Regions from separate parts of the Homo sapiens genome. Here region 1 is linked to region 2. The links come from fine-mapping of genetic effects on gene expression. A gene starts in region 2. The other region holds a variant in brackets. All regions are shown on one strand. Distances are between the middles of the regions.

Region 1 (8,338 bases), 56 kb after region 2:
AAGAGGGTCTGAAACCCTAAGCACTCTTCGAGGGTCTTGAGAATAAGTACTGACCTCAGGATCTGGGTCCCTTTCCCAGTGGGGGTTAGAGTCTCAGTGGCCTTGGTTGTCCTCCTCCAGTGCCTGTTTATATTTGAACTTCTTCCTCCTCTGGACCTCACCCATTGGATCCCTGCAGGATTGCTGGACCCTCTGCCAAGACTGGCCATCAGCGGGAGGGCTGCTTCCCTCCCTACTTCTAAGCTCAAAGCCCTAGGAGGTCTTGCCCGTGGAGACGAGGTACATGGCTTTGTGTTTTATTGCCATTTATTGTTCTTGTTATTTTAACATTTATGGAGCACGTTTTAGCTGTGAACTCATTTCTTGAGCATCACTGCGGTCAAAATCTCCCCAGGGTGCAGGGCCAAGGGTTACTTTGATTCTTTTTTTGGCTGTTGCCCTATTTACTTTATTAAAAATATCATTGTGCGAGGGGCTCCCTTTGTTCTAAGAACTTTTCTGGACATGACCCTGGGTCCACCCTAAGCCCCTGATTACCATCATTTGAACATGAGCCTGGGTATGAGTAAGGCCATATAGGCCAGCGGTCAGCAAACATTTTCTGTAAAGGACCATGTCATAAATATTTTTGGCTTTGGGGGCCTCTGCTGTAACTACTCAACTCTGCTCTTATCACATAAAAGCCGCCATAGACAGTATATAACTGAATAAAACTTTATATACAAAACCAGACAGCAGCCAGAATTTGGCCCATGGGCCATAGTTTACTGACTGCCCCCTCCCCACCCACCCAACGTAGATGATGGGGCTTTGTTCTACGAACTCCCTTTTAGTTCTTCCATAGATCTAAAGAGTCAGTTCTTCTTACTGCAGTTTTGGCCTGTTTCTACTTCTTTGTTTGATCCCCTAGAGCGTGAGTTGGCAAACTGAGGCCAACAGCTCAAACCTGGCCAGTTGCCTGTTTTGTAAATAAAGTTTTATTGGAAAGCAGCCACACCCATTCATTCTGTGTTATCTATGGCTGCTTTCCCACTACAACAGCAGAGCTGAGAAGTGGCGTCAGAGACCTCTTGGCCCCCAAAGCCTAAAATATTTCCCATCTAGCTCTTCACAGAAAAGCTTGCTGACCTCTACTCTAAAGAGTTGAGGAATGGCTGGCTGAGAAGCAGACTTTTTTTTGCATGTACATGAAGAGCATTACTAACCCTCCCAAACTCATCTTAGAACTTTTCTCCCAGGTTCTCTTGTCTAGTCTTTCAAATATTTTAGATGTTATTCTCTGGAATCTAAGTTTTTTTTTTTTTCCAAAGTTCCAGACCACTGTTTTTAAACAACTTTGGACTGTGATCCTCATAAAGGACATATTTTATATGTCACCCCTGTAATGACATACAATAAACTGCATACACACAGATGTCCCCACCACACACACAAACCACACAAAACACATACAGAAATGAAAGTTTTAAGAAACAATGCTTGCCTTACTATATGTGATAAGCTCTCGTATTTTCTATGAACACCAGTCAGGATCAGCTTGATGATGCTGTGGTAACAAGTAACCCCAAATCTGAGTGCCTTAAATCAACAGACATTTATTTATTGCTCCTGCTCCACGTTTGCCCTGGATCACTGGGGATCCTGAAGGAGCAGAACATCACACACTGATCTCCAAGTGTCTGACAAGAGTGGTACTCACCATTTCTTTGAATATTTCTTTGGTCAAAGCAGCTCACATGACCATAACTTTCAATAGAGTGAAGAAGTGCAGCCCTACTGTGGACCCAGAAGGTGAATCTGAGATATTTGGTCAACAGCATTAAGATAACTACCATATGGCTGGGCATGGTGTCTCCTGCCTATAATCCCAGCACTTTTAGAGGCCAAGGTGGGAGGATCTCTTAAAGCTAGGAGTTCCAGACCAGCTTAGGCAACATAGTGAGACCTCATGTCTACAAAAAGTTTTAAAACTAGCCTTGCATGGTGGTGCATGCCTGTAGTCCCAGCCACTCAGGAGGCTGATGTGGGAGGATCGCTTGAGCCCAGGAGGTCAAGGCCATGGTGAGCTATGATCTGCACTCCAGCCTGGGCAGCAGAGTGAGACCTTGTCTCAAAAAAAAAAAAAAGAAAAAGAAAAAAGAAAACAAAAGAAAAAAATTACTACCATATTAGTCTATCCCAGGAGTTGGCAAACTTTTTCTGGAAAGGGCCAAATGCTAACTATTTTTGGCTTTGCGGGCCATACCATCTCTGTCACAACTATTCAGTGCAGCAGTTGTCACGTAAAAACAGTCAGAGACAACATGTAAACAAATGGGCTTATCTGTGTTCCAGTAAAACATTATTTATAAAAGCAGGCGGTGGGCTGGGTTTGGCTCATAGGCTGTGGGTTGCCAACCCTGGTCTACTCTATTTCTTTTTTGAAAAACACTGGTCACAGCTCACTAAACTGATTTTATTAACCCATCTATGGGTGAGACTCTATAGTTTGAAAACCCCAAGTGACGATAAGCTGCATAAGATGAGGGACTAATATTTCTTATCAGCTGTATCCTCGGTGCCCAGTACAGGGTTAGTGCTGAGTAAACATTGTTGAAAGAAGCCACTGAAAATCCTCTCCAACTGTTTTTCTGGTGATAAATACTCTGTTCAAGATGCATACGTTATTGTGTTTCTCTCGTAAGGTTGCCTGGAAAAAAACAAAATAAAATAAAGCTGCACACATTATTGTTTAATTCGTAAAAGGTTGACCCTACTTTCAAGGTAACTGTCAGTTCCAAACTTAGAGACACAAGTATTATGTTCACTTCTCTAAGAGCACTGTTCTTCATTCAAGCTTGAGATGATCGCTCCATAAATGTAGTGTTGAAATCTATACTTGTGGAAACCCAGGTCATTGTATATCTGTTTTCTTCATATATATTTATTATTTATTGTGTCAGGGAAAATACATGCACTATCTCATTTAATTTTCTCAAAAATTGCAGGAGGTGGGTGCTAATGTTACTCGCATTGTACAGATGAGGAAACTGCAGCTCAGAGGAATATGCCCAGTGTCTTGGAGCTCAAGACTGGTAGAGATGGGATTGGAGCAGAGTCTCTGACTCCAGAATATGGGGTGTTTGATCATTTGGCTATGGTGTCTCTGGGACATGCCACCACATACCAAGACCTACTCAAGTGCAAGGTCTTTAAATGCTATTGGCAGTTGAGGCCATGTTTTAAGTCCTCTTAGAAAGACACTATATTGTGCTTCATAAGATGATACAAAACATACATGAGCCGGTTCCTTTTATGGGAAAATCTGAAGTTAACAGTGAGATTGGGGAGTGGGGAGGGTTTAACACTTTAACAGCTGTCCTGCTAAGTGTGAGAGTAAGTCAGGCCAAACCTAGTCTCACAGTCAAGACTTTCAGGTAAAAGTAATAGAGAACTCAAGTCAAACTGGTTCAGCAAGTAAAGAGAATTTAGGGGATCAAGGAACTGAGAGTCCAGGGTCAGAGCTCAGTTCAGGTATAGCTGGATCAGGGTTGCTGATGCAGTCAGGATTTCAGTTGTTTTCTGACTCTTGACTTGTTTTGTTCTTCTCCACGTTTTGGGTTTAACCTCAGCCTGCACATGGAGCTAGATGGTGGGGTAACTGAGCCACACCCTCTAAGGCACATAGTAGGTGCTCACCAAATATTTATTGAATGGATGGACTGCTCAAGATTGGCTTAAAAGCTTGATACTTTTATGTAG[C/G]TGTTAGGTTGGTATGCATTTTAAGATTTGTGTGTATCTGTCTGTGTGTAGCCCAGAGGTTAAGAGTGGAAGCACATTGCTTTGGTTGCAACCCTTGGCTGTGCCACTTACCCACTGTGTGACTTTTGGCAAGGGTCCCAACCCCAGTTCTGCACCTGCAACTGCCCTATGAAGTAGGTAGTATCATTTTGCATCTATGATGCACAAGGATAGCATGACACAAAGAGGCTGAGGTGCTTGCACAAGGTGATTTATGGAGCTGGGTGTGCACCTTGGCATTCTGGTTCCATAGCCTGTGTTTTTCTCCACTGTGCATGCAAAGTGCTCAACACAGTGCCTGGCACAGAGTAAGCTCCCAGTAATCAAAAGAGCCATCAATCCAGGCTCGTTTAAAGGTGGTGGTGGACAGGGCAAGGGTTTCTCCCAGGATAACATGTAGTGAAGCATGGAGTTGAGTGATATAAAAAATAATCACTTTCCTAGAGTCTGGGAGAACTGAATTATTATTTCCCAGCTGCCACTAATCTGCAGGGGGACCTTGCAGCGATGTTCCCCTCTCAGACAGAGACTCAATTTTCACAACCATAAAATAATCTAAGGAGTCTCAAGTACCCTTCTAGCCCTGATATTCTAAGAGTCTGTGACTTGATGATGCCTGTGAGTTTGGAGGTCTCATGGCTGGGCACTGAGTTTCCAAGATTGCACATGGTTTGGGGTGCTGGAGCTGTGGGGAAATCATGAGGAGTCACTCTGCAGCATCTGTTCCCTGCTCCTCCTTCTGGGTGCTCCTCCACCAAGGGGCAGGAAAGCCCAAACTCCCTTGCAGCTAGGTTTCTAGGAGTAATGGAACATTAAGCAGGCACATGCGCTTCCTTGAAATTCAGAAGGCGGAGGTCGTACTCAAATTGCCTCTGCCGTGTTGGTTGTTTCTGTCACTGTGCAGAGTCTGGAGTAGTTTGGCTTGCTGCACAGCTTTAGCAGAGGCCCCAGCGAGCAGGCACTAGCTTTATGTGTGTTGAGAGGCATGGTGTCTTTGTGTGGGTTCCCAAGAAGCTGACCTCAAGATCAGGGCTCCAGTGCCAATAGTTCATTTAAGAGGTGACTCCAAGAAACACCAGAATGGGAATAAAGAAGGAAGGCATGAAGCGAAGGAAAGTAACAGAGGGTGTGTGATCCAGCAGGTTACTCCCTGAGCATCTAAGGCTACACCCTGATGGGAAAGGGCTTATAACACGTGCCGCTGAGTAATCCCTCCTTAGGGGTGAGGGAGCTGGGGTCTTTATACCCCACATATGCCAGAAAGAGCCTTCAGGTAAAACATTGCACTTGCTGCCGTTTGGAAGTTGGATGGTTTTCATGGAAATGGTATTTGCCGAAGGGATTTAGGCAAGGTAGTGACAGCATCAGCCACGCAGGGCACAGGGCATCCTTGTTGCTTGTAAGGATTCTGGCAAGTGTGATAAGGTCATGAGGCTGGCACATTAGTGGAATGGTTTCCTGATAGAGATATCCACAAGGTGCCTATCATGGAGGGATTTTTTCTGTAACCAGCAGCTTTCTGGTCACAGCACATGTAGCAGTAACCAGTTGTCTGGTGTCGCTTTGGCATTCCCTAAAGCTTATCCTAGCGTCTGTGCCCCCAACCTCCCCAGAAATTCTCTAAGTCGTTTGCTAGCCTGAATTAACCCCTTCCTGCTTAAGCTAGCTGTAGTGGGTTCTACCCTCTGCAACTAAACTCTGGTTGATACCAGTTATAACCTACATCCTGGGTCTGCTGGACAAGCAGAAGAGTGCCAGTCACTGAGGATTAGAACAAAGTTCCCACAACAGCCCTGAAGGGCAACCGGGCTATGCACTTCTACATCATGGGCCACCAGGGAGCTGAGTAATAAAACCACTCTCAGGCGTCAGAGGACTCAGATTCTTGTCCCAGCTCCCCCACTAACCTGCTGTGGGACCTTATACAGGTAATTTTCGTCATCTGAACTTCAAGTGACTAATCTGTGGCCCAGGCAGGAGAGGATGGGGGCGAGAGTGTGGATTTCAGGATCAGATGGGCCAAGTTCAACCTCTCAGAGCCTAAGTTCCTTCATTTGTGAAACAGGGATAACAGGGTTCCCAGAGAAATATTCAGAAGCATCAGAGCCTCTCTGAAGAATTCTGCCACCTCCTGACATTGTCAGTTTCCCTCTCTCCCTCTTCCTTCCTCTCTCTTAACAAATATTTATTATGCTCCTACTTATACCAGGCATGACTATTGGTGTTGAAAGCCCACAAGTCTCTCTTTCTGTGAATCATAGTTTCTGGAGGGTAGAGACAGACAAGAAACAGACAAAGGCACGTGTGTAATGAATGTGTCCGGGGGTGAGAAATGCAATGGAGAAGAACTCCGCCGAGCAATGGGGCAGGAGTAGTGAGGGACCCTCCTTAAGGTAGGGTGGTCAGGGAGGTCTCTCTGGCAGAGGCCTGAGAGGGGCAGGGAGAGCCGTGGGCATGTCTGAAAGGAGAGCATGCTTGGTGGGGGATGGGGCTTGAGGGACCACCACTAGGAGGCCAGTGTGAGAGATGGAGGGTGGCGGGATCTGAGCTCCAGAAGTCAGGGGCGGGATCAGACAGGGCCTCATGGGTTGCGCTTGGCTCTTTAGATTTTACTCTGAGCAAGCCAGAAGCTGGCCTCATTTAACCTCCTTTTAGAAATCGGTGTGATGAATCAATAGCTTTGGCCGTTTGTTCATCAGTCATTCATTCATTCAACAAGGATTTGTTGAGCACCTCCTTTGTGCAGCTCTGTGCTTTTCTAGTTCCTCTGCTGAACAGTGAAGGGCAGAGCAAGCACCCACCGGAATAAGGAGGGAGTTGGGCATTTTGCTAGAGCTCCTGTTTGGTCCAGAGGCCGCACACAATGGAAAAGTAAAGCCTGGTCCCCTCCGCAGGCCACCCCGCACCTGGAGGCATCACCTGGAGCTCTTCCTGGCAGGCTGAGGCCTGCGAGTTCAGCCCCACTGGCTTCCCCGGGGCAGGGGTTGCCCACGCTTGCTGAAATAAGAACCTCATACCAGATCAGCCCCGCATCCCAAGCAGGGCACCCTAAGGATGCTTTTATGTAAGAGGTTGCATTCCCAATTATCTTAAGATGCAAAGTGAAGGTGTTTTGCCCAGGGAAACTCTCTATCAGGAGTCGTTGCACATCTAAACACATGAAAAATGAGACTTCCTGAAACATTCCTATTTCACCCTGTGACAGTTTTGCACAGCTCATAGAGTTCAATTTTCAAATGTCATCCCACTCTGAGAGACCCAATATTTGAAGTCGTGGAAATCTATCTTTAAAAATACTTTTAACAGCATTATTCCTAATATTAAAACTTGGAAAACACGAAAGGGAGATACTTGAGTTGTGATCATAGCAAATGTTCCTATAATATTTAGTGTGTGTCACTGATGCTTTACATATTCTAATTCGTTTCATCTTCATGACTACCCTCTGAGGCAGATGTACTGTTAACCCCACTTTACACATGGGGATGCTGGGGTCTGAGGGCTTGAGAACTCCGCGGGTTAACCCAAGAGTTATGGGACCTGGTTATGGAACCTCAGTGCTAAGGAAAGTGACACCATCATAGGTAGTGTTAGAACAAAATCTTGGGGAATGGTTATGTTTTCCTGTTCGGTGGAAAGGAAGCATCAACATAGAAGATTAGGTAGGAGCTCATGTACACTAAAAATGAAAGTAGATTAGAATGAGCCGGGTTGGAAGTGGGAGAAATGTCCCCAAACACAGGTTTAGAGTTGGCCTTGAGAACATCAGCGGTATGGACAGATGTACGGACACTGGGGCCTGATAATTCTTCCTTATGGCGCTGTCCTGTGCCTTGTAGGATGGTTAGCAGTATTCCTGGCCTCTCCCTCCCCAGTTCCTCTCCCTCCCCAGTTATGACAACCAGAAGTGTCTCTGGACATTGCCAACTGTCCACTGGGAAGTAAAATCACTGCCATTCAGAACCACCAGCACAGATGCTAAGATCATGGGTGGCATTTTTCTTTCCTTTTTCTTTTCTGTGGTTTCCAACTTTCCTTGAATAGGCATAGATCGCGTGAATAAGTAGGAGCAAAGGAGCTCTCGTTGGGATGACCATGCCACTCTCCTGTTCAGAACCTTCCAGCAAATTCCCAATACACTTAGCTTCCCCAGGGCCTACAAGGCCCTGTGTGAGCTGGCCCTTGGCTACTTCTTGGACATGTTCTTCTCTCCCTGTGACCCTTTCTCATCATGTTCCAACCACACGATTCTTCTTTCTGACATTCAGACACATCCAGCTCATTTCCATCCCAGGGCCTTTGCATGTGCTGCTCTGTCCTGTTGCTCTTTCCTACCTCCTCTTCACATCACTTGCTCATCCACTTCAGGGGTCTGCTCAAATATCACCTCCTCCGAGAGGCCTTCCCTGATCACCCTGTCATGAATATTTAAGCGCCTCCTGTTTATTGTAGGTCACCCCTACTAGAGCATCATCTCCAGGGGGACTGAGACATTGTTTAATTTGCTGTTCCATGCCTCACTCCTAGAACAACGATCGGCACATAGTAAAAGTTCAAT
Region 2 (8,338 bases):
CATCCCCACATACACACTGTATCATAAACTGCCTTTTTTGTAAAGACTCATGAGAAAATTTCTCTCCTGTATCAATATCAGGCAAAACTCTGATTTGCCCAAGTCATTTGGTTTCTTTCTCATAGAAGAATTAAGAATCATGAACACTGGCTGGGCACAGTGGCTCACGCCTGTAATCCCAGCACTTTGGGAGGCCGAGGCAGGCGGATCACCTGAGGTTGGGAGTTCGAGACCAGCCTGACCAACATGGAGAAACCCCGCCTCTACTAAAAATACAAAAATTAACTGGTCATGGTGGTGCATGCCTGTAATCCCAGGTACTCGGGAGGCTGAGGCAAGAGAATCGCTTGATCCCAGGAGGCAGAGGTTGCAGTGAGCCGAGATTGCATCACTGCACTCTAGCCTGGGCAACGAGAGTGAAACTCTGCCTCAGGAAAAAAAAAAAAAAAAGAATCATGAACACTATGGAGCACTTTGAAATCCATGATTCTTAATCTTGACTCTGCAGAGCTTTGGGGGTTCCTTCAAGACCTTTACACATACCTACAGGAGAAAGGGGTGAGGCATAAGGCTGTGGCTGGGAACCCTCACCTCCTTTTTCCATACTGAACTTCTATACATACTAGATTTTAAACAAAGGAAAGTTTGAAAGCCACTGATGTAACTGATCACATTTCTGTCCTTGCAGTGGCTGCCTGGAAGCTCAGCATCTAATTCTCAGTTCTCCACTGACAAGTGTCCAGGACCTTCTAGCTCACATTTTGTGTGCAAACCTTACCTTGACTTTCTTTTGTTTTCTTTCCTGTTTCCCTGTTGTCTGCTTTTCTTGTTTTCTTTATTCTGCTGCCATATATATGGTTTTATATGTTGCCTCAAATCCTTTTTGGAAAGAGCCAAGGTTTAAGTGAATGTATTTTAAAAAATTGAATGCTTTTTCTGTAGAGGTGACCTTTGCAGGTGGGAAAGGAATATGTTTAGAAAAAAGGCATGATTTGTAGAATTCACATGTGTGTTTGTAGGATATGTATATACATATCCTACAATGAATATACATACATTGGATATATTGTGAGGTTCATAGTTTTCAAAATTAATGTGTTTTTCTGGCTTTAGAGGGCATTTACTTGGAAGACTGGAGTGGGGGAAATGTGTTTTACTCCAAGGTAGGCATGACTGTGGACTACACCACAAAGAATCTGCTGTATGGCTTAGCACTTTCAAATTTTGTTTGGGATCATTTTGCTGGTTGTTATCAAATGAGGACAAATACTTAACAAAGAGATAGCAAGGGAAGAAAGAGACAGAAAGGGGGTGCTTCTACATAGGAAGGTGGCTGAATTTTCAGGGTCTTGAATTAGCATTGGGGGCTTAAGTCCTATCAGCTTCTGCTCATCTGCTGTGACTCTGTGGTCAAGGTCTCACTCTCCCAAAGATAGGGATTCTCTTCCTCTGCTGTATATTGGAATCACCTAGGGAGCTTTAAAAAAGGATGATGCCGGCCAAGCACAGTGGCTCACGCCTGTAATCCTAGCACTTTGGGAGGCCAAGATGGGTGGGTCACCTGAGGTCAGGAGTTCAAGAGCAGCCTGGCCAACATGAAGAAACCTTGTCTCCACTAAAAATACAAAACTTAGCTGGGCGTGGTGGCACATGCCTGTAATCCCAGCTACTTGGGAGGCTGAGGCAGGAGAATTGCTTGAATCCAGGAGGTGAAGGTTGCAGTGAGCCAAGATCACACCATTGCACTCCAGCCTGGGCGACAGAGTAAGGCTCCTTCTCAAAAAAAAAAAAAAAAAAAAAAAGGCAGATGCCACAGTTCCACCCCAGAGTCTGGTTTAATTGGTCTAGGATGGGGACTCAGCATGGAGATTTTTAAAAGCTCTCCCTGGAGATTCTGTGCACCCAGAGTTGAGAATCACAGCGCTAAGAGAAGGAAAAATAAAATTAATAAGCACCTGCCTCCTGCTTATCTCTCAGGGTCGTTGGGGTGTGTCTGTAATTTATGAAATAATGGGCCAGATTCTGGGGAAGGAATAAAATGGTATGAAGGAAATAGATTAACCCTTTGCATTCTATAGGGTACCTTTGGTTAACAAGTGTTCAAGATTTTTCCCCATGAGCCACAGGAAGAAACATTTCACATCCTGACCAAAGATATAGATATAGATATGGATATAGATATAGATACAGATACATGTGTGTATATATATATGTATGTATGTATACGTATATATGATATACGTATACATATATACATATATATCTCTCCATTGTAAATTGAAAATATCCTAAGTTCAAAATGCATTTAATACGCCTAACCTACTGAACATCATAGCTCAGCCTAACCTACCTTAAATGCACTCAGAACACTTGCATTACCTCGCAGTTGGGCAAAATCATCTAATACAAAGCCTATTTTATAATACAGTTTTGAATATCTCATGAAATTTATCAAATATTTTGCTGAAAGTGAAAAATAGAATGGTTGTATGGGTATCTCAATTGTGGTTTCTACTGAATACACATCACTTTCACATCGTCATAAAGTCAAAAAAATCATTAAGTGAAACCATCATAAATTGGGGACCATATGTATACATTTAACTATATATAGGGGATCATATGTATATATGTAACTATATATGTATAGGTATGTATATATATTCTTACTGCATACAATTCACTTGATATTTCCTATTCCAGTCTATTCCTTTAGGAAAAAAAAATTAAGGTTCACAGGCCAAGACAAATTAAACACCTCTGAAGGTCATTAAGATGCTCAATTTATAATGACTTGGAGCACTTAGCAAAGATACTATGGGAAGTGAAGCTGTGTGTACAGTAATAATATTTGTTGAGCAATTGCTAGTGCCAGCTGCAGTCATAGTAGAAAGTGTTTTATGAGCATGAGCTCCATGAATTTTCACAATAATAGTATAAGATGAGTACTGTTATTTTCACTTTAGTGATGAGAAAATCAAGGCCAAGTACATATGTACATTCTGCCTCTAGAAGACAGAAGCAGAGCCATCTCCAAGCCTACTGCGGCAGGCCCAGAGAAGAGAACAACCATGTTTACTGAATACATTTGCTTCTGTCTGAAGTTTGGGGAGTAGAAAGCGGAGTAAGCTATGACCAGAGGTGGGTCTGGGAATGGTGAGGCCTGATACATGTATAATTTGCAGCCCCTATTCAAGAAAAAGAGTACAAAATTATGAGTCCAAGATTAGATAAGAAAATGATTATTTCTTTAAATTAAGAAAAGAAATCACAACAAATTCAAATTTTAAGAAGCTGAAAATTACCACAAACATCACAAAATTCCCAACTCAACTTTCCTCCAAAATGCCAGCAGCCACCTGACACCACCCTACTCAAGGGCAAGTTGGGGGTGGGGAATCGGAGTGGAAAGACAGCGGTGTCTACGGCCTGCAGCCAAATGTCCAAAGCAAAGGACTTTTGTAAACTTTACATCAACAAGCCACCATCTGAACACTTTTCTAAGTCCCCTTAGAAAGGGGTCCAAGCAAGTCAGGGGCCCAAGAACTTAACCTTCATCAGCTCCTGTAAACTTACAACTGGAATTGAAGACTGTTACGGCTCAAGAGCAACGGCTTTGGAGTCAGCCAGGCCTGAATTTCATTCCTGGCTCAGCCACTTTCTGCCTTCTTTGAGCTTGGACCTGCTCATTTGTGAAATGAGTGTGCTGACAGCAGCTACCTTGGGGTCTCTCTTGGGGATTACATGAGATAAGGAAGAGTTGGGCATTGGATGAGCTTAAGGTTGCAAATAAAAATATAGGACCCCCGGTTACATTGGAATTTCGGAGACAAAAGAAATACTTTTTAAATATAAGTACGTACAACCAATCGCATAAGACATATACTGCAACTGATTCCTCGTTTCTCTGAAATTCAAATTCACCTGGGTGCCCTGTCTTTTACTGCACTTAAGAAATGACAGTGGTTGATATTGCTTTTGGATTGAAGCATCCTGGGTGTCCCACGGTGGAATTCATAGACATTAGAGAGTGGGTGACGGGCTAGGAAAGGCTGCATAGACTCCAATTAACACAGTTCATTGCCAGGGAGACTAAAAGGGGGGTGGCTATGAGAGGATGGAGTAAGTGGGGTGCCTTGATTTGGGCATGTAGGTGGAGGGGGCTATACCTCTCACTTTCACTAAACCAGTTAAGCTCTTGAGACCTCAGTTTCCTTAGCTGTAAAATGGGTGAAACATAGGGGAGACCCCTGAACCGTTCTCACCTAAATACCACACCAATGGCACTTCCTCATAATTCAGATGTCACCTCCTCAGAGAGGTCTTCCCTGACTGCTCTAGCTAAAATTACCGCCTCTCCTCCACTCCCCAACAGCAGATACATATATTATTTTTCTCCCTGTAACTCTAACTTTCTGAAACTGTCTTGCTTCTTTACTTGGTTATTTGTTTATGGTTTGCCTCTCCATGTGAATGCAAGTTCCGGGAGGGCAGAAAACTAGTCTGTCTTGTTCTAGCTGAGTCTCTCAGGAGTGGTACCTGGCACAGTAGATGCTCAATATATTTTGAATGAATGAATGGGTGGTTGAGTGAACGAATGTTAGTGTCACTATTGAGGTCCTCTCCGAGCCGTCGTTCCTTTCACAGGGGTCATGCCTGGGTTGCAGGGAGGATGTGCTGCCCCGGGGAGGGAGGAGGTGCGGGGTGTCGGTGGGTGGGGAGGAGGCTGGGCCCTGGCCTCCAGGACCGGCGAGAGTGAGCGCGCTCTGCTCGGCTGCAGGCTCAGGAAGCGGCGCGGCGGCACGTGCTGGGCCAGAGCCCCGCGCCCTGCGTCCAGCCGCCGGGTGTGTGCGCCCGCGTAGCCCAGCGTCGCGCCTCGGCGCCCCCACGCGCCCACGCAGCGGCGCGGGGACCCGGGCGGGGGCAGAGGGAGGGCCCGGCCCAGGGAGGAGAAGGGGCCGGTCCTCCCGGCGCAGGCAGCAGCCGCGGCAGCCCAGGAGGCGGAGGCAGCGGCAACGGCAGAGACAGCAACGTGCCCGCCGCAGTCAGCCCGGCCTCGTCGGACCCGCACCGGCCCGCCCGCCCGCCCGCACCGCGTCGGGGCGCCCTCTCCACTGCGCGCGGTGAGTACCGCCAGCGGCGCCCACCCCAGGCCGCCCGCCGGGATTCGCCGGGCGGGGGGAGTTGTTCACCGGGACCCCCTCGCCCTGCGCCTCTTTCTGGCACTCGCCAAGCGGGGCCTCCGCAGCTGTCGGGACGTTCTGGGGCGCACGGGCCTCCCAGGGCCAGGAAGGCACAAGGGCAGAGGGGACAGCAGCAGAGCCCCCCTCTGGAAAGGCTCTCCCAGGCTCGGGGCCCCAGTTTCCCCATGCGCTTTGGGGCAACGACCCTGAAGTTTGCTCTCCCGCGCGCGGGACAAGTGCATGGCGCGCAGGCGGTGTAGACGCGGCTGGGTCCTTGGCGTTTTGTTCGATTATGGTCCCGGCGGTTCGCGATAAGGGGCGCTCCCCCAGTCCGCAAACTCAAGCCCTCAGGTAGTGTTTATGGGATAACCAAGAAGCAGAGCCAACCGCTGGAATCCCGGCTTGGGGCTGGAACGGCCCGCTGAGACTTTGCCTTCTAGCTATTGATATATTTCTTTTCAAAAGTCCGTTTGCGCTCGGCCCGCTCTGGTTCAGGTCTGGGGCTTTGAACCGGGGCAGGGAATCCTGGCGCCTGCTGCGGGTAGAGTTGAAACTTAGAAAAGTTTACATCCGAAGGGTGTTTAGAAGGCGGCAAGGATTTCGTTGTAATGGGAGAAAGTGGGAAATGGAATTGTTTTTTAGTCATGAAGTCTGGAGGTTAAACGGCCGTGCTGGCCCAGGCTCCTTCAATATATTCCTGCCTGCCTCCCCCCCAGCAATAAATAGTTTATAAGCTCAAGGAATACTAGGAAAGCGTGACTGGTGAACGTACTCCTATCGCAAAAGACTCAGTGCGCTTTTCTCAGCTGTTGAACTGGAAGCGCCTTTTGCAGTGCGAGGTTCCTGCTTCCCCGAAGCCGAGGCTGAGAGTTGACAGCGTGCACCCTGCCGCGGTCTGAATTCTTTTTAAAAAGCAAGACCGATGCTGCGTTTTTATGGATACCCTTTTCTTTTCTTTCCCCTTCCCCGAAATGCTATGTAATCTTCAATTACTTTTTAAAATATAACGTGGAGGTATAAATCACCCCGGTAAGAGGTACCTTTTAATTACGAGGTGCAGTGGAAGAGCTGAACATTGGAATCTAGCTGTTAGCGAGGGCGGAGGGGCAGGAGGATGATTTACAAACATCATGTAAGAATTTGAGCACTGAATTATGTTTGAGTTAGGGAGATCCCTTACAAAGGAAATTATAACCAGTGGACAATTGTATTTCAAACCGAATCTATTAATTTCATGAGCCGTTTCTTGATTGAGTGAAATGTCTGTGACCATAATAGATACAGAACTAGTAAGCACCTTACCAGACTATGACCCATTTGTTAGCAACTAACATACACATGTAACCATCCTGCTTACAAAAAAAAAAAGAGGTACACAAAGAAAGAGTGGGAGGAGAGAACCTCTTTTTCAAAATAATCTTTGTGAAAGAATCTTTCACAATTTTACTCGATAAATAAATGTTCATTTTTTCCACTTGTCTTTCTTCATCACCTTAAGCCCCTTCATCCTTTACATATCTTTGCATTTAGACACTCTCACACTTGGGTAAGTTCTTCTATAATTTATATAACAAATAACAAATGATAGTGGTTTGAATCTTGCTTTTGACTAAGCATTAAATTGTGTTTGTATTAAAAAAAATCTCCTTGCCTTCGTAGCAAACTCTTAACTTTTGCCATTGTGAAAAGACCAATGTGGTTAGATGCAAAAGAGCCTGAACTTTTTTTTACTTTAAAGCAGTTTATATGTCCCCATTCTCTTGTAACTTCAGCTTCACAATATCATTCACTATTTTATCTGAAAGGAATTGGCATTTTTCTTTTCTGTCTTAAAATAGCTCACCTGGTGTTGTGACCATGTGTATGAGAATACTCTATAAACACACAAATCACTTCCCCAATATCAGAAAAACTAAAGGAAATATAAAATAAAATAAAAAGATGTGTATCTCAATACTTTAGGATTTTTTTAAAAAGTTTTCATCACGTAAGTTTTAGAATCTTCTTTTCATGTCTTTTGTTTTGCATTAAACACATCATAAAGAGGTATGATTTGTTGACTTGTTATAGGATTACCATTTGGCAAAAACGCCCAAGACACGCTGTTTCAAATATGTGGTATTACTTCTGCTTTAAATTGCGTGTAAGAGATTGCAAACCTTGTTCCAGATGGATAAATTGATAAAATGCTAGCTGCTGTTGGGAGAATGGAAAAGCCCTCAGCAAAAAGGCTCTGTGGTGTAGCTAAGTACATTTTGAATTAGGGTGAGCAAGCTATGGAGACCCCAGCCGTTTGTGAAAAAATATACACAGTCCAAGCACGTCCACTTTAAGACGTTGTTGGATCCTCCGTGACAAGATGACTCCTTTCCCACAAAGAAGAAACCGTTTCCTTATTTTTTCAGTTACTTTTCCAAAGACAACTTGCATCGGGCGCAAGAGAGCAGAGTTATGCAGAAATCCAACCGTAACCAGCTCAGAGCGAGGACTCATTCTCTCTCCTTCCACCAGATGTTTTTTAGGTGTCCTCAGCTGGAATGCCCAGTTTGAAACTAATTAGGCCAGCAGTAAACTCCTTGTATAATAAAATCGCAGGCCGTAATGGTGAATAAGTGAGGTTCCCAGCCGCTTATGACAGATGCCTTTCTGGGCAGAGAGAGAAGAGAGCCTGTGGCTGTCAGGAGAAAATGAAGGGAGTGGAGGTGCCTTCTTTAGACACATGCCTTTCCTAAGTATCCACGCACATGATCGCAGAGCGGAGGAGTGGAAGTTGCGACTGGGGTAGAGTTTTGTCTTTGCTGGGCAGGCCTCCTTCATACAAAGATGCTTGGGGGAGAATCAATTATAAGTATTAGGCAGTGTCTTCAGGTCTTAGGTGTATGCTGTGTGTGTGTGTGCAAAGGCTTGGGGAGAAGGATTGGTGTCACGTGCGGGGCAGTGTAAAAAACTTAACTGCTTCCCACCTGGGCACAAAATGAAAAGAAAGACTGCCTGGCCTGACATAAATTCCTTGGGAGAGAGGAGAACCTGCTCCCCCAGAGACTTTTGATAAAGGGAGAATTCGCCTAATGATGTGGTTCCCCTTATCTGTGAGGTTTGTGAGGGTGAAGGAGTTGGTTAGTCTGTTACCTCCAAAGGCTGGACTTTCTGACTAA

Direction of the effects. Positions count from the first base shown, and alleles are read on the strand shown. Sizes are in standard deviations (SD) of each study's normalised expression.
As copies of C replace G in region 1, the expression in aorta of the gene that starts at base 4,979 in region 2 goes up (large effect, 0.82 SD a copy in GTEx).

Evidence for each region. PIP is the estimated chance that this variant, and not a neighbour inherited with it, causes the effect.
Region 1: its variant is the best candidate, but not a certain one, in a credible set for the expression of EYA2 in aorta (GTEx, PIP 0.65).

Annotation. Positions count from the first base shown.
Region 1 is chr20:46,945,998-46,954,335 of GRCh38, forward strand. All of the region lies in intron 1 of EYA2 (EYA transcriptional coactivator and phosphatase 2), which reads left to right. Among named protein-coding and RNA genes, the nearest start is that of EYA2-AS1, 48 kb to the left of the region's middle. The variant C/G (reference allele first, on the strand shown) is at 3,742.
Region 2 is chr20:46,889,865-46,898,202 of GRCh38, forward strand. It overlaps EYA2 (EYA transcriptional coactivator and phosphatase 2), which reads left to right and starts at 4,979. Exons shown (of 16, transcript NM_005244.5): 1 at 4,979-5,123.